Linked DNA regions of Homo sapiens. The protein of the gene in region 2 purifies or fractionates together with the protein of the main gene of each other region. This does not show direct contact. Each region holds a gene or a part of one and is shown on either strand. Other genes may lie near its edges. The genes, in order: LYRM4, ALDH1L1, ADCK2, OPA3, COQ8A, TAMM41 and ECI2.

What was found.
Region 1: the proteins of ALDH1L1 (region 2) and LYRM4 purify together in Homo sapiens (co-immunoprecipitation; one large-scale study listed by IntAct). This does not show direct contact.
Region 3: the proteins of ALDH1L1 (region 2) and ADCK2 purify together in Homo sapiens (co-immunoprecipitation; one large-scale study listed by IntAct). This does not show direct contact.
Region 4: the proteins of ALDH1L1 (region 2) and OPA3 purify together in Homo sapiens (co-immunoprecipitation; one large-scale study listed by IntAct). This does not show direct contact.
Region 5: the proteins of ALDH1L1 (region 2) and COQ8A purify together in Homo sapiens (co-immunoprecipitation; one large-scale study listed by IntAct). This does not show direct contact.
Region 6: the proteins of ALDH1L1 (region 2) and TAMM41 purify together in Homo sapiens (co-immunoprecipitation; one large-scale study listed by IntAct). This does not show direct contact.
Region 7: the proteins of ALDH1L1 (region 2) and ECI2 purify together in Homo sapiens (co-immunoprecipitation; one large-scale study listed by IntAct). This does not show direct contact.

The regions. Positions count from the first base shown.
Region 1 is NC_000006.12:5,215,951-5,219,450, forward strand, and holds part of LYRM4 (LYR motif-containing protein 4), read right to left. Parts: intron 789-3,500; coding exon 668-788; intron 1-667.
Region 2 is NC_000003.12:126,153,087-126,156,586, reverse strand, and holds part of ALDH1L1 (cytosolic 10-formyltetrahydrofolate dehydrogenase), read left to right. Parts: intron 1-1,083; coding exon 1,084-1,185; intron 1,186-1,943; coding exon 1,944-2,033; intron 2,034-3,005; coding exon 3,006-3,143; intron 3,144-3,500. UniProt on the Homo sapiens protein: Cytosolic 10-formyltetrahydrofolate dehydrogenase that catalyzes the NADP(+)-dependent conversion of 10-formyltetrahydrofolate to tetrahydrofolate and carbon dioxide.
Region 3 is NC_000007.14:140,679,445-140,682,944, reverse strand, and holds part of ADCK2 (uncharacterized aarF domain-containing protein kinase 2), read right to left. Parts: intron 1,904-3,500; coding exon 1,808-1,903; intron 1-1,807. UniProt on the Homo sapiens protein: The function of this protein is not yet clear. It is not known if it has protein kinase activity and what type of substrate it would phosphorylate (Ser, Thr or Tyr).
Region 4 is NC_000019.10:45,582,003-45,585,986, forward strand, and holds the start of OPA3 (optic atrophy 3 protein), read right to left. Parts: upstream 2,801-3,984; 5' UTR 2,763-2,800; coding exon 2,621-2,762; intron 1-2,620. UniProt on the Homo sapiens protein: May play some role in mitochondrial processes.
Region 5 is NC_000001.11:226,981,794-226,985,293, reverse strand, and holds part of COQ8A (atypical kinase COQ8A, mitochondrial), read right to left. Parts: intron 3,268-3,500; coding exon 3,145-3,267; intron 2,617-3,144; coding exon 2,531-2,616; intron 2,401-2,530; coding exon 2,260-2,400; intron 1,743-2,259; coding exon 1,661-1,742; intron 1,534-1,660; coding exon 1,440-1,533; intron 1,201-1,439; coding exon 1,059-1,200; intron 747-1,058; coding exon 639-746; intron 419-638; coding exon 353-418; intron 41-352; coding exon 1-40. UniProt on the Homo sapiens protein: Atypical kinase involved in the biosynthesis of coenzyme Q, also named ubiquinone, an essential lipid-soluble electron transporter for aerobic cellular respiration.
Region 6 is NC_000003.12:11,792,414-11,794,885, reverse strand, and holds part of TAMM41 (phosphatidate cytidylyltransferase, mitochondrial isoform a precursor), read left to right. Parts: intron 1-2,472. UniProt on the Homo sapiens protein: Catalyzes the conversion of phosphatidic acid (PA) to CDP-diacylglycerol (CDP-DAG), an essential intermediate in the synthesis of phosphatidylglycerol, cardiolipin and phosphatidylinositol.
Region 7 is NC_000006.12:4,115,206-4,118,575, reverse strand, and holds the end of ECI2 (enoyl-CoA delta isomerase 2), read left to right. Parts: intron 1-1,124; coding exon 1,125-1,268; intron 1,269-2,546; coding exon 2,547-2,702; 3' UTR 2,703-2,870; downstream 2,871-3,370. UniProt on the Homo sapiens protein: Able to isomerize both 3-cis and 3-trans double bonds into the 2-trans form in a range of enoyl-CoA species. Has a preference for 3-trans substrates.

The DNA.
Region 1 (3,500 bases), on a different chromosome or scaffold from region 2:
CTGACGTTCTAATTACTCTTGCGGATGTTATCAGACCACGCAGGAGATCATGCCGCTGCACATGCTCCACCCACCTCATGAGAATGAGAAAAGGAAGCACAAGTCAAGGTGATCCTTGGCACTTCCACAAAACGAAAACTAACACACCCTCCAGGTTCCTTTATGGGGTCAGCACCCAAGCAGCTGTACTTTACACCATCTGCACCTGCAGATGCACCTCCCATGTGGCAACGTAATTCAGGTTCACCACCCACAATGGTGTCTTCAAGAAAAGGGCCACGTTCTGTTTATCCTGAATTATGATTAAAAATACTAGGAAAGGGAGAATATATTTATACTCTGAAATATATCCAAGTACACATGTGCGATACATCTTACAAAAACTTAGCTTTCAAAAAAATTAATGCAGAAGTTTCTCATACTTAAAAGTATCAGCTTTCCAGAAGGATACACTCCCTGGAAATTCCGGAAAGCTGGTATTTTAAGTTCAACTTGAATCTGAAAATATGAGAGTTCACCTTTACATGTCTGTATTAGTACAAGGAACAGAGTTTCATGATCCTGCTCTGTAAATCACCAACACCAAAAGCACGGCTGTCTAATCAAGGGGAATATGTCGAAGTTTAAAGCTCTTAATGAAAAACAGTACATCATTGAACCATCTTACCTGTCGACGAATTACTCCAAGGTCTCTCTTGGCTTTATTCACTAGGGTTTGAATTTCTACAGGATCCTTTACATTTTTATTTTCTCTGAAGGCATCTCTTATCCTCCTGACAGCATATGTTCTAAATGAATTCAGAGGAAAAAAAAGAAAAGGTGTCAGCGTGTCTGAGGCTATGCTTTCAAATGAATTTTAAAGTTTTTCCTTTAGAATTAACTGTTTAATCTTCCCCTACGGATAATCCACTTTGATCTTTGCTCGTGGCGCAGGCTGATCCACTACCATTCTGGGATGACTAAGCAAACAGATTTAGGAAAATAAATCTACTCAACAAGTCACATACAAATGGCAAACTGCTACTGAAGTGTTCCTTAGATTATTGGTTCTTTAGCCTTATTCACATCTGGCTTCATTCCATTTACATGGATAATTGAACCTTTAGTGTACAGAGACAAATCAAGAACTCAGAGGTTAGCGGCAGTGAACCATGATGGTGCTACTGCACTTCAGCCTGGGCGACAATGCGAGACCCTGTCTTAAAAGAAAGGAAGAAAAAATTCAGAGGTTACATGACGATCGTATTTGCATGTACCCAGATAGTGACCTATGCTTTCCAGTCCTTGTCCCATATTCTGGCTCTCACTTCCCTTTCTGTTGTCCACATTAGGATCCCACCACAGTTGAACCTGTGGAATTAGGCCAACACGCTTTCTTTACCTCCATCTTGAAAGTGCACACGCCTACCACCCACCCCCAACCAGACAGCTCACTTGCAGTACAGGACAGCAGTTCCAGAGCAAGGCTTGCCCATCGGACAGGCTTGGGTTTGTAGCCTTGCTCCAGCTTCTACTGTTTGTGTGAACTTGGGCAAGCTTCTTAACACAAGGCCGTGTCTCCTCATCTGTCAAAAAGGCATAATACTGCTAAAGGCTGCTGGGAGGACTAGGCTTTATAATGTGTGTCTGGAATTTGGCCCAAAGCCTGTTACATAGAAAGACTCAATAAATGAAAGCTATTCTTCTTAACACTTGTTATGCCTTAATGCAATTACTGTTCCCTCTCCTCATGCCATAACCTTGCCTTCATCCTGCATCCTTACAGTCACACCATAGTGTGTGTACAGAAGGTAGAGTGGTGTGGATAATTAGCCACAACAGACAGCTCAGCAGTCCTTAGACACAGCCTCATACTCAGATGGCTATGGCCTATCTCTAGCTCTACCCCAACTACTCCAGATTGAAAGGCATAAGACTAAGGAGAAGCAGACTGAGCCAGGCATGTGAGACACCATTTTCTCTATGTTTTTTTTTTCTTTTTTAGAGATGGGGTGTCCCTCTGTTGCCCAGGCAGTGTCATGATCATAGCTCACTGCAATTGCAAACTCCTGGGCTCAAGTGATCCTCCTGCCTCAGCCTCCAAAGTGGCCAGGATTATAAGCACCCACCACCACGCCTGGCTAATTAAAAAAAATTTTGGGGGATGGGGACTTGCTGCGTTGCCCAGGCTGGTCTTAAACTCCTGGGCTCAAGCTATCCTCCTGCCTTAGCATCTCAAGGAGCTAGGATTACAAGCACACACCACAGTGCCTGGCTCTCTCGTCTTCTTAATGATCACAGACTGCTCTGCTTTTAACTTGGAGCACCGGTTAAAGAATCCATGTGATGCCAGTAGTAATATTTAGCAACAGAAGAATGGAAATACAGGCAAAGAAATGAGAGGAGGGGATATAAATTTCCTTGGGAGCAGCGCGGAGGGGGTGTTGGGAGCTCATATAACTTATTGGGAAACTTTATCTTAAAAAGGACAAATTGTTTCAGATAAAGTTTTTTAAAGTAAAAAGGCATTTTACATTAAAAAATTCAAATGTCAGGTCTATTTGCATTTAAAAGCAAGAGTAAAACTAAATCTTATGATACTAGGAATCATAAAGGAGAAGGGAAGAGTTTAGGAACCGGTACTTAGAATGTAAGACACTGCTGAGACTTTGATCTTAACCCTCTGTGAACCAGCTGGAGTATTTCAGAGGAGCTGCTGAGCGCTCAGTATCAATCCTAAAGGGCTACAGCGATTGGGCATGGAATCCATGTACTAGCAGCTGCTAAATAACTGGGGCTCATTCACTTCTAAAGGGATATGGGAGGATTTTACAAATGGAATACATCAGATACAGACTCTCCTCAGGTGCAGCTGCTAATCTAACAAGATTTTAGATAGCAGCTAGGTAAATTAACAGCAATTTCTGGCACTTTCTTGCATAGCCTAATGGCTATTTATAAAACACAGCATCACTGTTCTTCTTGACAACCACATACTCCTCCAAAGCAGTTTCTTTTTTGGCAATGATGGCAGCAAAGAGGGGACAAAATAATTTAATTCTAATATTTGTTCCACAGGCAAAATTGGTTTATAACATGAATTTACCTCCAGGAATCATCTATTGTTTAAATTTTTCATTTCGTATGCTGCATGGGCTTCTTGGAAAAACAAAATGGGCAACAGTAGCTATTGCTAAACTCATTTTTCTAAAAGCTAGTAACTAGCTTAGAATAGCTAGGAAAAAAGGAGTACTGTTTGGAATGTAAAGACCTAAGGTCTTCCAAAGTTTAAGGAAATGAGAAAATAGCTTAAAACACTCAACAATTTATATCAACTGAGCTCAAGGCCCAGGGTCAGGATATTCTGCTATGTATACTTGTTTGTCTCCCCAGCTCTCCAAAGTCCTTACCTAAAGAAAAGCAGCTCTAGATCTTGGAATTAAATGTGTCTAAAGCAATCAAGAGTCATGATTCAAATTTTCGATGCACTTTCGAGATGAATGCTGTAATGGTTCCCTCCT
Region 2 (3,500 bases):
CATATGTGAGGGCTGCTTGCCCCTGCCCGAGGACAGGCTGGCAGGGACGGCCACAGGCAGAGGTGCTGTCCAGGCATGCAGCAGGAGGGAAGGAGGCCCTGGGGAGCCCTTGCTGTTTGGGCGCAGCAGGAAGAGCAGCTGCAGTGTCCACTGTCCCCTCGTCCTCCTCAGCTCCTGGCCACTGCCTTTTATTTTTCGGTTGTGTTAAACTTGTCTTCCCCACAGATTGACCAGCTCACAAAAATAGTGAACAAAGTAGAGTTGCTGGAGATTTAGTGGTACAGAGAGGGAGCTTACCTGTGCTTCCCACGGCAAGCAACTCAAATACTCCTTGAAGCTGCACTGTCCAACAAGGCAGCCACTGGTAACATGCAGCTATTAAATCAATTAAAATGAATTATACTGAAAAATTCAGTTCCTCAGTCTCAGCCACATTCTAAGTCCCCTGGCCACCGTGTTGGACCGTGCAGACTTGGAACTCATCCATCACCACAGAGGGCTCCATTGGGCAGCCCTGCCTCAGATGCTCTGACACCCGGTCACTTCCCATTCTTGGCACCTCCCGGTCTCTTCCCTCAGGCTCTTGCTCACGTGGGCCCAGACTCCTTGGCTCTCCTTCTCCCTCTCTGATTCCTTTCCCACCACCTTCCTCTTTCCTGTCACAGAGAAACAACTTCCTGCTTCATCTCAGACCTCCAAACTTCCACCTTCAAGCCCACCACGGGGCTCAGGACCCACTCTCTTTAAAGGCAGAGAAGGCTTAGACAGCAACATGGACATTTGTGTCTGTGTTATACCTGCAGGGCTTTACAGTTTATATAATCATCTAAGATATCAGAAGATGTAAGATCTATGTAATCTAAACCTTTGCCAGGTAGAGAGGACGGGTCTGTGTCCGTTGTGCAATAGAAGTTAGGTTCACGCTGACTCCCTTGTTCATATGGCAGGTGTTTCTTGGGTGACTGCTGTGTACCAGGCAAGTCTGGTCAGTCTGGGGAAGGGTCCAGGCTCAATGTGGGCCCTGGGGCTGGGAAGGAGGCAGGGTCCTATTGCTGGGGATAGCAACCCACTGGATCTCCCCAGGTGCAGGCCGTGAGGCTGATCGCTGAGGGCAAAGCCCCCAGACTCCCTCAGCCTGAGGAAGGAGCCACCTATGAGGGGATTCAGAAGAAGGAGACAGCCAAGGTGAGTGCTGGGTCCCTCCACACCCTCATCCTGCCTGTGAGCAGACTGGGGTTGTAGAGGGCAGCCTGAGGAGGCTGGGGTTCAGCCCAGATGGTGCAGGTTGTAATTCTTTGAGGCCAGAACACAGGGCAGCCCAGGTCAGGGATGCATGAAGAGAGCCGTGGAGGAGGAGGACCCTGGCACCTGGGAGGGTAGCGAACAGGGTCCATTCCAGGTTCTTTCCTGTTCCTCTTTAGGAGGAATGGGCAGACAAAGCCCACAGGGAGATAAGAGTGGGAGTTAGGGGGCAAAACGTCAGCCGTAGTGCGAGCAGTCTTCAAGGCAAGGTGTGAGGGACAGTGCGGGTCTCTGGAGCAATAGCCAGTGGAGGAGCCTCAGAAGCCTGTAGGCTGTGTCTCAGCTCAGGAGTATGGGTTGCTGTGTGGGGACCCACAGGGGCCCTGCCAGTGAAAGGTTGGGCCCTATGGGACGGGCCTGAGTACATTGTGCTGGGGCCTCTGTGTAGGGTCTGGGCCATCTTGACAGCAACAGAACATTATCTTCCCCAAACCATTCTGAAGTCTGCTCAGCCCATGAGAGACTGAGGGTCAGAGAGCACCCAGAACTAGGGGCACCAGCTCAGGGACTCCTGCAAGTGTCTAAGAGGAAGCTGGGGTTACCAGCTGTCTCACAAGAGCTTGGTCCACTGTCCAGATGTCATCAGGGTGGGAGGGGAGTGAGGAGAGACCAGCTGAGCACACACACCTTGCTCCCCACAGATCAACTGGGACCAGCCGGCAGAGGCCATTCACAACTGGATCCGCGGGAACGACAAGGTGCCGGGAGCCTGGACAGAGGCCTGTGAACAGGTGTGTCCCTGCATGGCTGGAATCCAGCCACGTGCATTGGTGTATCCCACTGGCCATTAAACTGTCACACATGTTTGAACTGGTTGGTATAATAAATAGCTACTGCCCTGGCCCCTACTCCCACTGGGTGCCCCCTAAACATCCCAGCCTTTCCCCAGGAGTGAGAGACCTACCCAGCCTGCAGTAGCTAAAGGATAGATGTCCTGCGTAGCTGGAGGCCTCCAGGCCCTTGTAGTGCCCCTGGGGCCCAGCTGTATTGGTGGTGAAATATTTTGAGTCTCACCACTGGGCTTGCGGAGACCCCAGGCCCAGTACTCACTCTGACTTGGCCTCAGGCAGGGTGGAGCAGCACATTCAGGGCCAGGCTGACCGTGGGCAGGCCAGATGCTGAAGATGGGGAGACTTGGGGGTCACAGGCTCTAGTGAGGCATCAGGGGTGGCGGGACTGTGTGTGGTGGACTTTGTGCAAACCTTGAGGGCAGTCTTGTCCCCCACACAGTCTCAGACTCTCCAGACCCCTGACCCCCAGCCGACTGCCCAGACTGTGGCCAGAAGCCTCTCTGCTGTCCTCATCAACGCAGAGCCCTTTGTACTAGCAAATGCATCTTCTGATCAAAGCAACCACTCCTTGGCAGCACCCTGAAGGCAGGTAGCCTCATTCCGTGATGCCTGGAGCACATTCTCCCCCAGTCTGTGCACCTCAGGTCTGAGGCCATGGGCCAAGGAGAAGGGTCTTATGGCAGAGTTGAGGCAGACCTGCCATCAGCTCCCTGAGGCCACTGAGGCTCCTCCAGGTCTTGTTTGTGCCCCAGGAGAAAGGGCCTCAGGGGTCACATGGGCTTTGAGCCGGCTCCCAGGTCTCAGCTACCCCTGGCCCCTCTCCCTCTCCCAGCCCTGCTCAGACCTGCCTGGGCTACTGGCTTCGGGGGCTTCTTCTCACCCACCATCTTCTGATATTTCTCCCCTTGACAGAAACTGACATTTTTCAACTCAACGCTGAACACTTCAGGCCTGGTGCCCGAGGGAGACGCTTTGCCCATCCCAGGAGCCCATCGGCCAGGGGTGGTCACCAAAGCAGGACTCATCCTCTTTGGGAATGATGACAAAATGGTAAGGGCACGGCTGTGGGTCACTTGCCTGCTCAAAGCCACCCATGCTCCTGTCCTTGGACTCAGGCCTCACAGGAAGACCCTAGGCTCCTCTGGAGAAAATGGAAAAAACCAGACCCAGGAAGGAACACTGACCCTGATTTGTCCCTGACCACCCGGCTGGTCCTGAGCACAGGGTGTCCGAGGCAGTTTACCCACTTCTCTGTTCTGGGAAAGCTGGGCTCCCTACCCTTCCTGGCTAGGCACCCATCTCCAGGCTGAGTGCCCTGTGTGGGTGTCAGGCAACCTAGAATCAGAGAGAAGCCCTCCCAGGGAGCCTGGGTTCAGGGCCTCTCTTTGGTCTATCAGAAACACCTCT
Region 3 (3,500 bases), on a different chromosome or scaffold from region 2:
ACTACAACCTCCATCTCCTGGGCTCAGGTGATCCCACCTCAGCCTCCCAGGTAGCTGGGACTAAAGGCATGCTGCCACCAAACGTGGCCAATTTTTGTATTTTTTTTTTTTTTTTTTTGTAGTGACAGGGTTTTGGCATCTTGCTCAGGCTGGTCTCAAACCCCTGGGCTCAAGCAATCTCCCCGCCTCAGCCTCCTGAAGTGCTGGGATTATAGGTGTGAGCCACTGCACCCAGCCAAAACTCTCCTATGTTTTAATCTGGGCACTGGGATGCTTTTTAAAAATTCACTAAGCATCATTTAAGATCTGAGCACTTTATATTTAAATATTATTGGAATTCAATTTTTTAAAGTTAAGGGCAAAAATCTTCAAAATGAACTTATCTGCCCTTGGATTAAAGTCCAAACTCTTTCACAGATTTACTAGACCCTTTGTGGTCAGGCCCCTCTCACCTCCTCAGCCTCCTCTCACCTCCTCAGCCTCAGCAATCACTGCCCCCTCCTTCAAACTCTCTTCCAAGCCATACTAAGTGCTTTCGTCTCTCCAAGAGCACCATGCAGTAGCTCACCCCAGGCCTCAGCAAAGGCTATTCTCTCTAGACAACTCCCTGCCACCTGTCCTTATGTAGTGACACCTAGACCTTCACACTGCAGCTGAGATGGAGCCACTTCCTGAGTGAATCCCTGGGTTAGCACAGTCTCCTCCGAAATGACCTTTTGGTACCCCGTACCTATCCCTATAAATCATTTACTTAGTCGTCACCTATCTTCCCAAGGAATAGTATGTCACGAGCATTGTAATTGTGTCTGTTTTGCTCACTGCTGTAACCCCAGCCCTTAATTCAGTGCCTGGCACCTAGCAGGTGCTCAATAAACATTTGCTGAACAAATGAGCAAAGCAGCATTTAAAATAAGATATTGTCTCAGCTGTTTGCTAAACTACAGGCAATGCTGGCAGAACTGGGTCATGGTCACCCTTCTTCTCACAGCACACAGAGCATGAGCCACTGACAAAGCACTTAAGAGGCCGGGCATGGTGGTTCATGCCTGTAATCCCAACACTTTGGGAGGCCAAGGTGGGAGGATCGCTTGATCCCAGGAGTTCAAGACTGCCCTGGACAACATAGTAAGTCCCTACAAAACAATTTTTTAAATTAGCCAGGCTTGGTGGCTCATGTTTGTAGTCCCAGCTACTCAGGAGGCTGAGGAGTGAGGAGGCAGGATCACTTGAGCCCAAGAGGTTGAGGCTGTAGTTCATGGAGATTTTGCCACTGCACTCCAACCTCGGCAACAGAGTGAGACCCTATCTTAAAAAAGGAAAAAAAAGGCCGGGTGTGGTGGTTCACACCTGTAATCCCAGCACTTTGGGAGGCCAAGGCGGGTGGATCATGAGGTCAGGAGATCGACACCATCCTGGCTAACATGATGAAACCCCATCTCTACTTAAAAAAATACAAAAAATTAGCCAGGCGTGGTGGCGGGCGCCTGTAGTCCCAGCTACTTGGGAGGCTGAGGCAGGAGAATGGCGTGAACCCAGGAGGCAGAGCTTGCAGTGAGCCGAGATCACGCCACCGCACTCCAGCCTGGGCGACAGAGCAAGACTCCATCTCAAAAAAAAAAAAATAAAAGAGCTTCACAGACACCATGGCCATTTATGGTAGCCTCCACTCTTTCTAGACCAGACTTTCTCAACCTGGCGGCTTGCTGCTTCGCTCTCCTTCCCACCCAGATAGCCAGAGTCCCAGCCCACTCCCCATCTGCAAGCTGACCACATGCTGGGCCTGAGCCCGCTCCAGCCATGAGCTCACCATCTTCAGGAGCATGTTGATCCCCAGCCGTGCAATCTTCCTTTTCAAGTCCACGGGAATTCCTGCCTGCTGGTAACTGGACACAGGCACACTCTCCTTCAGAAAGACCAGGGAGAGAACAGCTTAATCCCAGCCAGCCTGTGATGCTGGCTCCTCCTCCCACGTGGCACCACAGCGCTGTCTTCTCACTTATTGGGAAGTAACCCAAAGAGTATTTCCTTTCCTAGAACCCATCTGTCATTCAGCCATGTGCAGTGGCTCACACCTGTAATCCTAGCACCTTGGGAGGATTGCTTGAGCCCAGGGGTTCAAGACCAGCCTGGACAACATGAGGGAGAACCACCTCAACTCGGAAAGTCAAGGCTTCAGTGAGCTGAGATTGCGCCACTGCACTCTAGCCTGAGTGACAGAGACTCTGTCTCAAACAAAACAAAACAAAAATCTGTCATCCACACATTGATTTGAACTTATTTACATTCCCTTCTATAACAGCTATCAGAAGGATGACAAGTCACATAGGTTTATTGAAAAGGAAACCTATCAACTCTGCTACTGAAGATAAGAGATGTGATGTCCTGAAAAGATAGGGGTGGGCACCAGAGAGCTGGTTTCTGGGCAAGAATCAGCCAATAGGGGTCTGGGCAACGTAAGGAGACCCCCATCTCTACAAAAAAAAAAAAAAATTACCCAGGTGTGGTGGCTAACACGTATAATCCTAGCACTTTTGGAAACCAAAGCAGGAGGATCACTTGAACTTGGGAGTTTGAGACCAGCCTGGGCAACAGGGAGAAACCCAGGCTCTACAGAAAAATACAAAAATTAGTCGGACATGGGGATGGTGGCTCGTGCCTATGGTCCCAGCTACTTGGGAGGCTGAGGTGGAATGATCACTTGAGCCCAGGAGGTGGAGGCTGCAGTGAGCCGAGATCATGCCACTGTACCACAGCCTGGGCAACAGAGCAAGACCTTGTCTCAAAAAAAAAAAAATTGTCAAAACAACCCATGGAGATAGATCTTGTTATCCCTAATTAACAAATAAAAGAACCAAAGCCCAGAGAGGTTAAGCAACTTGCTCAAGTTCACACAGCTAGAAACACTGTGTGGTTCATGTCACATTCATGAGATTCCCTGAATCTCATATCACCATCTGTAAAGAGGAGGCTGGGCTGGGTGCAGTGGCTCATGCCTGTAATCCCAGCACTTTGGGAGGCCAAGGCAGGCAGATCACTTGAGGTCAGGAGTTCCAGACCAGCCTGGCCAACACGGCAAAACTCCATCTCTACTAAAAAATACAAAAATTAGCCAGGTGTGGTGGCACACACCTGTAATCGCAGCTACTTGGGAGGCTGAGGCACGAGAATCACTTGAACCTGGAAGGCGGAGGTGGCAGTGAGCTGAGATCATGCCACTGCACTCCAGCCTGGGCAACAGAGTGAGACTCTATCTCAAAAAAAAAAAAAAAAAAAAAAAAAAAAGAGAGAGAAGGCTGAACTAGAGTAGAGGATAGCTAGGGCAAGTGAGATGACACAAGGTTGTTCAGCACTTTCTCTGTGCCCAACTCCTTGTTTTGCATTCAGTGTGTCATTTACTCCTGAGACAATCCTCTAAGGCAGGTCACCAACTAATAAAATGGCAGAGCAGATTTTCAAATCTAGGGGATCGGGCCACACCCAGTGTTCTCAGCTACCTCACT
Region 4 (3,984 bases), on a different chromosome or scaffold from region 2:
TGGTCAGGCTGGTCTCGAACTCCTGACCTCATGATCCACCCACCTCGGCCTCCCAAAGTGCTGGAATTACAGACGTGAGCCACCGCGCCCCAGCCAGGAGTCTTACCATTACTCAAATCAGTCTCCCTGAGCATTCAGGGAGATTTTATTTTTATTTTATTTTATTTTTTTTTTTTGAGATGGATTTTCACTCTTTCGCCTGGGCTGGAATGAAGTGACGCGATCTTGGCTCACTGCAACCTCCATCCCCGGGTTCAAGCGATTCTCATGCTCCAGCCTCCCGAGTAGCTGGGATTATAGGCGCCCGCCACCAAGCCCGCCTAACTTTTGTATTTTTAGTAGAGACGGGGTTTGACCATGCTGGCCAGGCTGGTTGCAAACTCCTGACCTCAGGTGCTCCACCCCCCTCAGCCTTCCAAAGTGCTAGGATTACAGATGCGAGCCAATGGGCCCAGCTGGAGCAGAGTTTTTTTGTTTTTTGTTTTTGTTTTGAGACGGAGTCTCGGTCTGTCGCCCAGGCTGGAGTGTAGTGGTGCGATCTCGGTGGAGCAGAGTTTTTAAGGATAACTTGATGGGTGAGGGGAAGCCAGTGAGCCAGGAGTGCTGATTGGTCAGAGATGAAATCACAGGGAGTCGGAGCTGTCTTCTTGCGCTCAGTCAGTTCCTGGGTTGGGGGGCCACAAGATCAGATGGGCCAGTTTATTGATCTGGGTAAGGCCAGCTGATCCATCAAGTGCAGGGTCTGTGAAATATCTCAAGCACTGATCTTAGGAGCAGTTTAGGGAGGGTCAGAATCTTGTACCCTCCAGCTGCATGACTCCTAAACCATAATTTCTAATCTTGTGGCTAATGTTAGTCCTACAAAGGCAATCCAGTCGCCAGACAAGAAGGAGGTCTGCTTTGGGAAAGGGCTGTTACCATGTTTGTTTAAACTATAAACTACAAACTAAATCTCTCCCAAAGTTAGTTCAGCCTTTGCCCAGGAATGAACAAGGATAGCTTGGAGGTTAGAAGCAAGATGGAGTAAGTTAACTTAGATCTCTTTCGCTGTGTCAGTCATAATTTTGCAAAGGCGGTTTCAGTGGTTCTCTGACCCAGCCAATGATGCTAAATTCCCTTATTTTATGTCCCACGTAGCACAACACAGATCACCTTTTTTTTTTTTGGAGACGGAGTCTTGCTCCGTCACCCAGGCTGGAGTACAGTGTTACGATCTCGGCTCACTGCAAGCTCCGCCTTCCGGGTTCACGCCATTCTCCTGCCTCAGCCTCCTGAGTAGCTGGGACCACAGGCGCCCAGCCACCACGCCCGGCTAATTTTTTTGTATTTTTAGTAGAGATGGGGTTTCACCGTGTTAGCCAGGATGGTCTCCATCTTCTGACCTCGTGATCTGCCCACCTCGGCCTCCCAAAGTGCTGGGATTACAGGCGTGAGCCACCGCGCCCGGCAAGATCACCTTTTTAAAGTAGTTTATATTTTGGGTGTTTACTAAGCCCTTTATTTCTATTTATTATTTTTTGAGACAGTCTTGCTGTGTCGCCCAGGCTGGAGTGCAATGGCACAATCTAGGCTCACTGCAGCCTCCACCTACCAGGTTCAAGCGATTCCCCTGCCTCAGCCTCCCAAGTAGCTGGGATTACAGGTGTGCGCCACCACACCCAGCTAATTTTTGTATTTTTAGTACAGACCGGGTTTCACTATGTTGGCCAGGCTGGTCTCGAACTCCTGGCCTCATGTGATCCGCCCGCCTCGGCCTCCCAAAGTGCTGGTATTACAGGTGTGAGCCACCGCGCCGGACCTTACTATGCCCTTTAGATCTGAGCTCGGGCGGCCCCCTCTAGGCAGCCCTGCTGGCCTCAGGTCCCTGGGTCAGCCAGTTCCTCTGAGCTCCGGGGCTCCCACTTTCCCGACCACTCTGGGTTGACAGTGATGGATCAGGAGTATATCTCCCAGTGCTGAGCAAAAAGGCCGCATAGTCTGTCAACCGAATGAAAGGACGGCGTATGAGCGCATTAATGAGTACACAGATGAATGTCCTCTCTGGCTCAAAGTCCTTTTCCGGATTCCCAGGCCATGTCTCCAGAACCCAGACTTCACCCCCGAACCATGCCCCTAATCCAGACTTATTGACTACAGTAAAACTGAGGCACGTCGACGTCCTAAACGGAGGATATACAAGCACCTCCTAGATCAGTGGGGAAACTGAGGCACACGGTGCCGCTTTTGAAATGAAGTTGCCCAAGGACAGCCGGGCAAAGGACCCCGTCCGGTTTCTCCTCAGCCCCTCCCCTAGCTCCTCTATCCTGGAAAGCCCCGTCCAAATTTCTCCCATCTCTCACACTATTGGTTTAACAGGGCATCAGTCTCCAAGCGCTCTCTTCCTTTATCGGCTGGCATTTCCTACTCGCGTGGTGGCTCCTTGACCCGCCCCTTACGCCCCGCCCCGCCCTCACTACTGGGCCACCCGTACGCCCCTCTATCAGAAACCCCCCACTATTGGCCACTGGACTTTGCCGGTTCGGGCTGTGATTGGTCGTAGACAGAAGTCCATCCCCTAAGCAACCACCTGACAGGGGTTGGAGAAAGGAAAAAGGTTGGAGGGAATTCGGGTCAGACTCACGTTGAGCCGGCGGGAGGCAGATATAGGTCTTGAAGAACTCGCTTCGGCGGGCGGCCTCCTTAATACGGTTGGCAAGCGGCTTGCTGACCTGCCGGATGCCCAAGTATAGCAGCTTCGCCATAGGGAACGCGCCCACCACCATCTTGGCGGTCTCACAGGGCACGCGCAACCTTGCTGACTGGGCGGGGCGCCTCAACCTCTTCACTCCTCCCCCGCCCTCTCGTGGCCATGCGTGCGTCAGTACGTATGTACGTACGCTCGAGGGAAACTTCAGAGGCGCATCCTGACGTCACCCCGTCGACGCTGGCGTAGCGACGTCCGTTCGCTGAATATGCAAATATACACGGAAGTGAGGCGGGTCAGGGGGCGGTGCCGTTAAACGGATGCTGGAAGGCGTGTGGATTCCCACGCCCGCCTTGGCCAACGTCACTGTACTCCTTCGTGATGTCACGTTCCGAGTTGGCGTCCCCACCCAAAGGAGGCTCTTAATTAGTCCTAATTAGTCCTATGAGCCCCAAATACACCTTCCTCTGCAAGCTAGGGCTCTCATTGGGATTAAGAGGAAGCCGCGCGGTCATACAGACTTTGGCTGGGATCCCAGCTCTGCCATTTCCTCGCTGTGTAATATTAGATGAGTGGCATAACCTCTCTGGACTTCAGTATTACCGTCTACCAAATGGGAATCCTAATAGCAGTTGCCTCTTTGGGTTGTTGTGAGGCTTCTATGCTAATCTTGAGTGTAAAACAGTGGACCATGGGAAGTGGTTAGAATGGTGCCATTCATATAGTTAAGCGCTCAGTAAATAGCCCTTCTTACTATACAGGTCATGATTGCATTATTAATGCTAAATCCAGCCTGAGGGTGCATTTCACCCCCAGAAGCAGCGAATCCAACCCTTTCCCAAGTAACTGACAAGGAAACTGAGGCCCAGAGCAGGGCAGGGGGTGGCACAAGGTTCCTGCAGAGGTTGATAGCCTGGCATCTTGGCCAATAAAACCATACCCGTTCTCAAGCAACCCAACTTCCTTCATTAGGAGGTAGGTTCCCCAGGGAGCTAGTTCAGAAATAAATTTAAGGACATGTCCCAGACTGTCCTTTCTTACCCAGCAGGGAGTAAAATCATATAAACAATGTCAGGAAGGGGTTGAGAGAAATTCCTGGATGATGGAGTGCTGATGGGTAATTGAGAGATTCTCGGAGGCAGAGGGACAGAAGAAAACAGGAACAGAGGACTGGCCGCCATGGCTCACGCCTGTAATCCCAGCACTTTGGGAGGCTGAGGAGGGTGGATCACCTGAGGTCAGGAGTTTGAGACCAACCTGGCTAACATCGTGAAATCCCATCTCCACTAAAAAAAAAAAAA
Region 5 (3,500 bases), on a different chromosome or scaffold from region 2:
GCACAGTCTCCCTGTCCCTGTCGGCAGCAGCCCTGATGATCTGGGGAGAGGCACAGGAGGGGACCGTGGGCAGCATGAAAAGCTCAGCTCCCGACATCCCAGGGAGCCAAGTGCCACACCCGAGCCCACCCCACCCTCATCCTCTCCCTGCACAGGGCCCCCGGCCAGTGCTGTGACACCACGCCTGGCAGCTGTCAGCCTAACTGCCTGCTGTCACCAGACCTGAGGGGCAGGCAGCGCAGATGGGGACACAAGGGCAGGAACCCAGTCATTCTCCCTACCCCGAGTCCCCCAGCATCCTGTCCCAGCCTCAGAAAAACATGGACCAAGGCCAGGGCCCCTCTCCAGTTACCTGAATGTAGAGGTCGGTGAAGGATCTGTCATATTCCCGCGTTGCCCCAAAATCCAAAAGAGCCACCTGGGGACAGAGACACCAGGAGAAGTTTGGCCCTGGTGCTCCATGGTGCGGGTGTGTGGGGCCGGGAAGGGGGTGCAACAGAGGGCAGTGAGGATCCCCACTCCCAGAGCCCTGAGCTCTCTGCTGACTTTCCCAGGACAAGGGGCAGTCCAGGGCCTCACGTGCCCCATTCGGAGAAGCTCTCAGGCCTGGCTGCGGGTGCCCCCACCCTGGGGCTCACCTTGTGCTGCTGGGGGTCATAGAAGAAGTTGGACCAGTTGGGGTCTGTTTGCATGAAGTGGAACTCGAACAGCTCCCTCAGGCACAGAACCAGGATGTTGTAGCAGATCTGTGGACAGCGCGAAGGGTCTGTGTCAGGCAGCACCACACTGCCTGGTGCCCTGGGAGACTGGGGCCAGAGAAGCCCCTGCCTCCTGTTTTACCCACCCTACCCTAGGGACTGTTTGATTCCCAGTGTTACTTGGGCCAGGGAAGGCAGCAGCTCCCCTGTGTCCCCCTAAGTCCCACTGGTGCTACTTCACTGCCCCTCACCCCCAGGGAGCACCTCAGGGCTCCAAGTCCCCAGCTCACACTATTAGGTCACCAAACAGCCACACAGCAGGGCCACCCTGGCCCCACCTGTCTGCTGGCACAGACAAACCTCGTTCCGAATCTCCTGGCTGAGCCCTTCGGCCTGGTCCAGGGGGAAGCCAGACACCAGCTCTGTGGTCAGCACATGTGGGCTGCAGAGCTCATCCACAATCTCAGGCACATAGAAGAAGGGGTGGCCCTTCAGCAGGTCCCTGGGTAGGGGAGGGAGGTCACGCCCTAGCCACAGGCCCTCCACACCGTCCCCCCCCCCACACACACCCCCCAACCAGGCAGAGGGCCCTCCTTCACCCCAGGCAGGATATGGCCTCGGCCCAGGCTGCAACCCCAGCCCTCTGCCCCTCAGAGCTGGAGGGGCCTTCACCAGCTGCTGAACATGGTCCCTTCTGCCTCCCTGGTGCAAACACGCAAGGGGCCCGGCCGGGGGCCACACCTGAACTTGCGGGCACAGGCGGCCTCTCGCTGGTAGTCACACTCCAGGGCCAGCTCCCGCCTCAGCACGTCGATCAGGTGCTCGGGGAACAGGCCTGGGCCAGGGAGGAGGGCATCAGCGAGGAAGGGGGCTCTGCAGGGAGGACCCCCTCTGGTCCCCAGAACCCAACACAGATGCCTGCCACCCACTCCTGCCCTTGACCCAACCACCTAGCCTCAGACCTTCTGGAAGCATGTTGCTCATGTTCAACACGGCCATGAGGTTGTTGACATCACTGTTGATGCTCTGGGCCACGCCAGGGTACTGTGGGGGTATGGGTGAGGCAGGGGAGTTAGCCCAGGGAGACGGGTGGGCCCTGCCTGGGGCACTCCCCCAACCCCCAACTGGCTTCCCAGCTGTGTCCTGGCCCCAGCCCACACCCTGGAGAACCAGAGCTAAGACCCAGCCATGCTGCCGTGACCTGGACCCCATCACAGCCTCGTTGTCCACCTACTCCTGCCTCACCTCACCCCTGGGAACAGCTCACGGCCACCCTCCCACCAGCTCTGGCCCCAAAAAGCAATCACTTGTCCCCTGTCCTTGCCCACCCCAAATCAAGCTTGCTGGGGGCCCCTCTGTGCCCCCAAAGTCACTCATTTAGCAAATACTTCCCAAGCTTCTGGTGCCGTCCAGGCACTGGGGCCAGAAGACACCACATATGGCCCTGCCAGGAGAGAGGGTGCCCTGCGGGACGTGGGGTGTAGAGGCCTCCATGAGCCAGGCCCCAGCTCTGCCCCTTGCAGCCCCCATAGGGACAGGCACTGCGCATCAGGCCGCCTACCTGGATCTTCATGGCCACCTCGCGGCCGCCCTTCATTCGGGCCAAGTGCACCTGCCCAATGGATGCGGCGGCGAAGGGCCGCTCCTCGAAGTATTCCAACTTGTCCCGCCAGTTGGGGCCCAGGTCGTTGTTGAGAGTTTTCTGAAGGGCAGGGCCAGGGAGGGGCTCTGAGCATGCCCTGCCTGGGCCACCGGGAGAAGCCCCAAGTCTGTCCCCTCCACCCAGTGGGGGCCGAGGCCACAGAGAGTGGGCAGAGCCCCTGGCTCCTCACCATCATCTGCTTCAGTGGCATGAAGTCCGCGCTCTGCCGCACCCGCTCGAAGATCTTAGCCAGGTGGGGGTTGATAAAGGCATCATCTGGAAGGCAGGAGAATGACACAGGGCGAACCTGGGGATTAAAGTGTGCGCCCAGGACCTGGGCGGGCACACTCCTGGGATGCCCTGGCCACCACACCCTCCCCACCAGGAGCACGGGTGAGGCCAGAAAGACAGGAGCCCTCGCACACACGCCCTCGGCCACTCAGCTTCCCGGGAGCCCCAGCCTCCGCCCAGTGACCTGAGAAGGTGGGCTTTTTACACTCAACATGCAGAGTTTTTCATAATTACAAAAGAAATTTGGAAAATAAAACATAGTAAAATGTTGAAATGACCTGTGTTCTGACCACCTGTAGAGAGCAATTTTTCCTCTCTGCTCTTTATTCCATGTGTTTCTTTGGACCCAGAGCCACCCGTCTGGAGACCAGGCCTATTATCTTCTAAGATCTCTCCCCAGCCTGCTCACATCTTGCCCACTGAGCTTTGGTGGGGCCACTGCTCCCGGCCCTGGAAGTTGACCCCCCCAGCAGCCCACGCAGTCCCGGGGCAGCAGCCCCCGCGCCCACTCACCCTGGATGCTCAGCATCTGGCCCAGCTTGAGTGCCGCACCACGCACCTTGCAGAGCGTGCGCACGATCCGCTCTGCATTGGCCTCGGACAGGAAAGGACTGGAACCCAGCACGGCCTTCTTCCCTGTGGGCGGGCAAGAGGGGTCACCACGGCACTCGGGGGGGTCTGGGAGTGGGATGGCAAGCCCCACCTGATACAGACGGAGGCTCAGACAATGTCCTTCCTCCCAGGCGTCCATAAAACCAGCAACATAACTAACTACTGTTCCATGTCCACCTCCCCAAGCCTGTGTGAGCCACATGCCCAGGCCCTACGCCAGCGCCTCCCAATACACACAGGCATGCACACGTACATAT
Region 6 (2,472 bases), about 110 Mb from region 2:
CTGGAAGGATGTTTTGGGGATACTAATTTTATCAAAGGTCTGAAACGTAAGATTATGGAAAGATAGAGATCTTTCACAGCCTAGCCATATTTCTACCTCACATTGTTTCCTGGAGAGTTTGTCTGTCAGTAGCCCATCTGTTTTAAGATCACACGGGGAGTTCATAGTCTTACGTGTGTATTAACTTCGCTGTAGGTCATGTGAAACAAGCTGGAAATCAGAAGAGAAACCTAAGGAGCCATATAGTGACATAGCTTTCTGCATGCTTCTAAAACAAAATCCTGACTTTAGATTCTAACCAGAATTCATAATGACTAGCTTTAGGTAAATAAGGATCTCTCTACAGGGAATGCATCTAAAGAGATGTTGCATTTTTATCCACTGGGGAAGGAGTGAGCAGAATTCCTAAATCATCATCCTTTCCTGTAGAAAGAGTAAGCTTAATGTAATCTGGGCACAGAGGCTCACACCTGTAATCCTAGCACTTTGGGAGGCTAAGGTGGGAGGATGGCTTGAGGCCAAGGGTTCAAGACCAGCCTGGGCAACAAAGCAAGACCCCATCTCTACAAAAATAAAATAAAATTAGCCGGGCGTGGTGGCATGTACCTGTAGCCCCAGCTACTCAGGAAGATGAGGAGAGAGGATCTCTTGAGCCCAGAAGATCGAGGCTCCAGTGAGCTTTGATTATGCCACTGCACTCCAACCTGGGCGACAGAGTAAAAAAAAAAAAAAAAAAATTGAAGAAAGTAAGCTTAGTGTAGACCAAGTAGAAGTCTATGGATTGTGGACTCTGTGAGGGCAGAGACCATAGCTGTTATCTGTACCAGTATCCCTAGCAACTAGTTCAGTGTCTTGCTTATACAGGTGCTCAATAAATATTTGTTCTATGTGTGACCAAATAAATGAAAGATTCTAAATTTTCTGGTAGTAGGAAATATCTCCATATAGATAGAAAAGTGCAAAAATCATAAATCTGATGAATTTCCACAAAGGGAACACCTCATAGACCTAGTGCCCAGGTAAAGAAATACAGTCATTCCAGTCCCCAGTACCCCTCATGCCCGTCACAGGCATTGCTTCTCCGAGAGTAAGCTCCAGCCTGACTCCCAGTGCCACGGTTCTGTTTTACCCATTTTTTAACCATGTATAAGCATGTCCTCTTTTGTGCCTTTCCCTGTTCATTTATAACATAGGGAGATTCATCGTGTTGGGAGTAGCAGTGGTTCATTTCTGCCCAGTGCAGTATTCTGCTGTGTGAATATACCGCAATGTATCCATTCTACTATTGATGGATACTTGGGTTGTTCCCGCTTGGGACTATTAGAAGTAGTGCTGCTGTGAATATTTTTGTACCTGTCTTTTGGTGGGTGGGTGTATGCATTCCTGTCAGGTATGTACTGAGGGGTAGAATACCTGGATGATAAAGCATGTGACTGTTCAGCTTTAGTAGAAACTGCTAAACAATCGTCCACATTTATACTTGCACTAGCAGAGCTTCTGTTGCAGCACCTCCCTGAATGCCTGTTTAGGTCTTTTTCATTTTAGGCACTCTAGTGGGTGACTAGTGGTACCATATTGATCTTTTAATTTACATTTTCCTCATGACTGAGGAAGTTGAGCATTTTTCATTTGTTTATTTGGATATGCTCTTTTGTGAAGCGTCTATTCTAGTCTTCTGCTCATTTTCCTACTGAGTTGTCTCTTTTGCTTACTGAATTCTCTCTGTAGTCGGGGCACAACTCCATTGTTGGATACATGTGATGTCAAAATCCCCCACTCCGTGGCTTGTCATTTCACTCTCTTTTTTTTTTTTTTTTTTTTTTTTTGAGATGGGGCCTTGCTCTGTGGCCAGGCTGGAGTGCAGTGGCGTGATCTCGGCTCATTGCAACCTCCGCTTCCCGGGCTCAAGCGATTCCCCTGTCCCAGCCTCCTAAGTAGCTGGGACTACAGGCACATGCCACCACGCCTGGCTAATTTTTTGTATTTTTAGTAGAGACGGGGTTTCACCATGTTGGCCAGGTTGGTCTTGATCTCCTGACCTCATGGTCTGCCCGCCTCGGCCTCCCTAAGTGTTGGGATTATGGCTGTAAGCCATGTCATTTCACTCTCTTAATGGTGTCTTTTGGTGAAAAGAAGTTCATAATTTCATGTAGTCCAGTTTATCCATTTTGTTTTCTATATGTTTAGCAGTTTTTTGTGTCCTGTTTAGAAAATTTTTGCCTATTCCAAAATCATGAAATTTAAGTTCTCCACCTCTGTTGAAATTATAATATTAAGGCAGAAAAGACTCTTCATTCTGATCTGTTGGTTCTTAGCCTTTTGCAAGTCCAGGATCCCTGTGAAAATCTGACTAGAACTCTGGACGCCCTGCACAGAAGTGCACCTACGCACACACACAGTAGATTTTCCTGCAGTGTTAGGGAGTTCACAGACACTCAGACTTAATCTGTGGACCCCTTGTTAGAGAACCCC
Region 7 (3,370 bases), on a different chromosome or scaffold from region 2:
GAAGGGGATTGTGACAAGACCAGAAGCTGAGCTATAGGAAAAGGCTTAGCAAATATTGCTGCAAGATCTCAAAGTGGGGCAGTGGGAATTGAGCTTGTTTTCATTGCCTATTAGGATTTTGTTAAAAACTTATATATGTATGTTTTTACTCTCATTAGGCTATCACATACCCTGAATTGAACTTGGGAAGGGGGCAGAACTGACTCTACAAGTCTTAGAGCATTTGGCTATTAGAGCATTCCTTGGCTGGGTGCAGTGGCTCACACCTGTAATCCCAGCACTTTGGGAGGCCAAGGCTGGTGGATCACTTGAGATCAGGAGTTCAAGACCAGCCGGGCCAACATAGTGAAATGCTGTCTCTACTAAAAATACAAAAATTAGCCGGGGCATGGTGGCGGGCACCTGTAATCCCAGCTACTCAAGAGGCTGAGGCAGGAGAATCATTTGAACCCAGGAGGTGGAGGTTACAGTGAGCCAAGATCGTGCCTCTGCACTCCAGCCTGGGCAGCACAGTGAGACTCTGTCTCAAAAAAAAGAAGAGCATTCCTTTTCTGGAAAAGAAATTGCAAATGGAGAGAGGATATCCACTTAATGTCCTCAGTTTTTTCGGAAGCTAACTATAAGTCTTTGCTTTCCTTTAGTCAAATAGAACTAATTTGAGTACCAATGCAGGTAAAGAAAACTCTCAGAGCCAGATCACTGGGTAGTTTCCAGAGAATGGAATTTTGAAAGTTTCTAAAGGTTGACCCAATGACCGTAATTTTTCTCTCCTTTTTTCCTCTGTAAAATAATAGTTTATAGTGTATCAAATGGAAAATCATAGCTGCTGTGGGTTATAGAATCAAGCATCTGCTTCAGATCATTTCTGCCCTGGACCCCCTGATCTTGCCCCTCCAACAACGATACACAGAAGCAGCAGCCCTTATAGACCTTCCCAGGAGCCTGTCTCAGCACACAGTTTGCAAACCGTTGCCTATTGAGGTCATCAGCTTCTCCCTTACTGAGAAATACCAGCAACCTCAAAAGACCATGAGTACATCTCTCTAAGCCTCCTGAAAGCAGTTAACTGAAGCCTTGTTTTATTAAGTTAGTATCTTAACCTTGCTTCTTGCTTTTCATTTCAGGCAACAGAGATGCTTATTTTTGGAAAGAAGTTAACAGCGGGAGAGGCATGTGCTCAAGGACTTGTTACTGAAGTTTTCCCTGATAGCACTTTTCAGAAAGAAGTCTGGACCAGGCTGAAGGCATTTGCAAAGCTTCCCCCAAATGTTAGTATTCATCTTTTACTTCTAAGAACCTTGAAAATGATTTCCTAAGGGAAAAATTTATTTGCCTTCAGAGAATAAGTCATAAAAAGCACAAGACACATCTTTAGTTACCTCTAAGCACATCTAAATTTGGAATTAAAAAATAACTGTAGTAATGTTGGAAATGCAGTACTGATTTTTACAAAACTTATCAAATAGACCTTCCATTTCTGTGTGGGGACAGAGGGCAATTCTGTATGGGGATTACTTGAGCAGGATGCTAGGCAGTATTTGCTGAGCACTTTTACTTTGGAATCCAGGTGAGAAGCATGGATTAGCTACTTTGAGAGTCTTATTGTATAGCACTTTTGTTTTTGTATGTGGTAGTGAGTGACTGATTGCTTTTATATTCTTGCTATTCAAAATGTAGTCCTGGAGCCAGAAGCTTGAGCAGCTACCTGAGGCTTTTTGGAAATGTATTATCACAGGCCTGCCCCACACCTACTGAAGCGATTTATATGCACACTGAATTTTGAGAAGCACTGTCTTATATTACACATGCAGCTTAAGATTTAACAGCATTAGGGCCGAGAACAGTGGCTCACACCTGTAGTCTCAGTACTTTGGGAGGCCAAGAAGGGCAGATCACCTGAGGTCAGGAGTTCAAGAACAGCCTGGCCAACATGGCAAAACCACATCTCTATTTAAAAAATACAAAAATTAGCCAGGCGTGGTGGTGGGCGCCTGTAATCCCAGCTACTCTGGATGCTGAGGCAGGGAGAATTGCTTGAACCCGGGAGGCAGAGGTTGCAATGAGCCAAGATTGCACCACTGCACTCCAGCCTGGGCGACAGAGTGAGACTATGTCTCAGAAAAAAAAAAAAGATTTAACAGGATTTATTAAATGAACATGGGAGAAACAAGAACCAGAATCATAGAATAATCTCACTCCTATTAGATTAACTCTTTTTTTCTTTTTGAGACAGAGTCTCACTTGTCACCCAGGCTGGAGTGCAATGGTGCGATCTCAGCTCACTGCAACCTCCGCCTCCCGGGTTCAAGCAATTCTCTTGACTCAGCCTCCTGAGTAGCTGGGATCACAGGCATGTACCACCACAACCAGCTAATTTTTGTATTTTTAGTAGAGATGGGGTTTCACCATGTTGGCCAGGCTGGTCTTGAACTCCTGACCTCAACTGATCTGCCCGCCTCGGCCTCCCCAAGTGCTGGGATTACAGGCATGAGTCCACGTCCAGCCTAGGTCAACTCTTAACCTTATTGTTGGTTTTGTTTTTCCAGGCCTTGAGAATTTCAAAAGAGGTAATCAGGAAAAGAGAGAGAGAAAAACTACACGCTGTTAATGCTGAAGAATGCAATGTCCTTCAGGGAAGATGGCTATCAGATGAATGCACAAATGCTGTGGTGAACTTCTTATCCAGAAAATCAAAACTGTGATGACCACTACAGCAGAGTAAAGCATGTCCAAGGAAGGATGTGCTGTTACCTCTGATTTCCAGTACTGGAACTAAATAAGCTTCATTGTGCCTTTTGTAGTGCTAGAATATCAATTACAATGATGATATTTCACTACAGCTCTGATGAATAAAAAGTTTTGTAAAACAAGCTTAAGAATTCACACAGGTGTTTGGTAGTAGAGAGTCTTACGTCTTTTGACATGAATCGTTGTTGCCAGGAACACTGGAACATGGTGCCTGGGGTCCTACTTTGAAAAGCACTCACAGCATTACAGGCTGAAGTCATGTCTTTGAATGCCACTATAGCACTTTGACGTCCACAAACAGTGGCTGACTGAATTGGGCCAAATGCTGACAGCCTACAGATCACTGACTTGAGGTCTTCAGTGGGTTGCATGTTCTTTTTCAGCCATGTAGCAAGGGAGCAAAATGGAAGGAATAGTATTACTAGAAAACAAATAAGAATCAAGAATAAGAATAAGAACCCAAATAAGAATCTTAGTTGGGTTTTTTTGCACAATTTAATAAAGAGGCATGAAGGGAAAACTGGGTCATTTCATTGGAAAGCAATGCTCTGTATGAGTAATTGTTTTCTTATTTGTTAGAGTCCCATTCTTGTTTAATGTGGTACTTTATGAAAGGCATCCC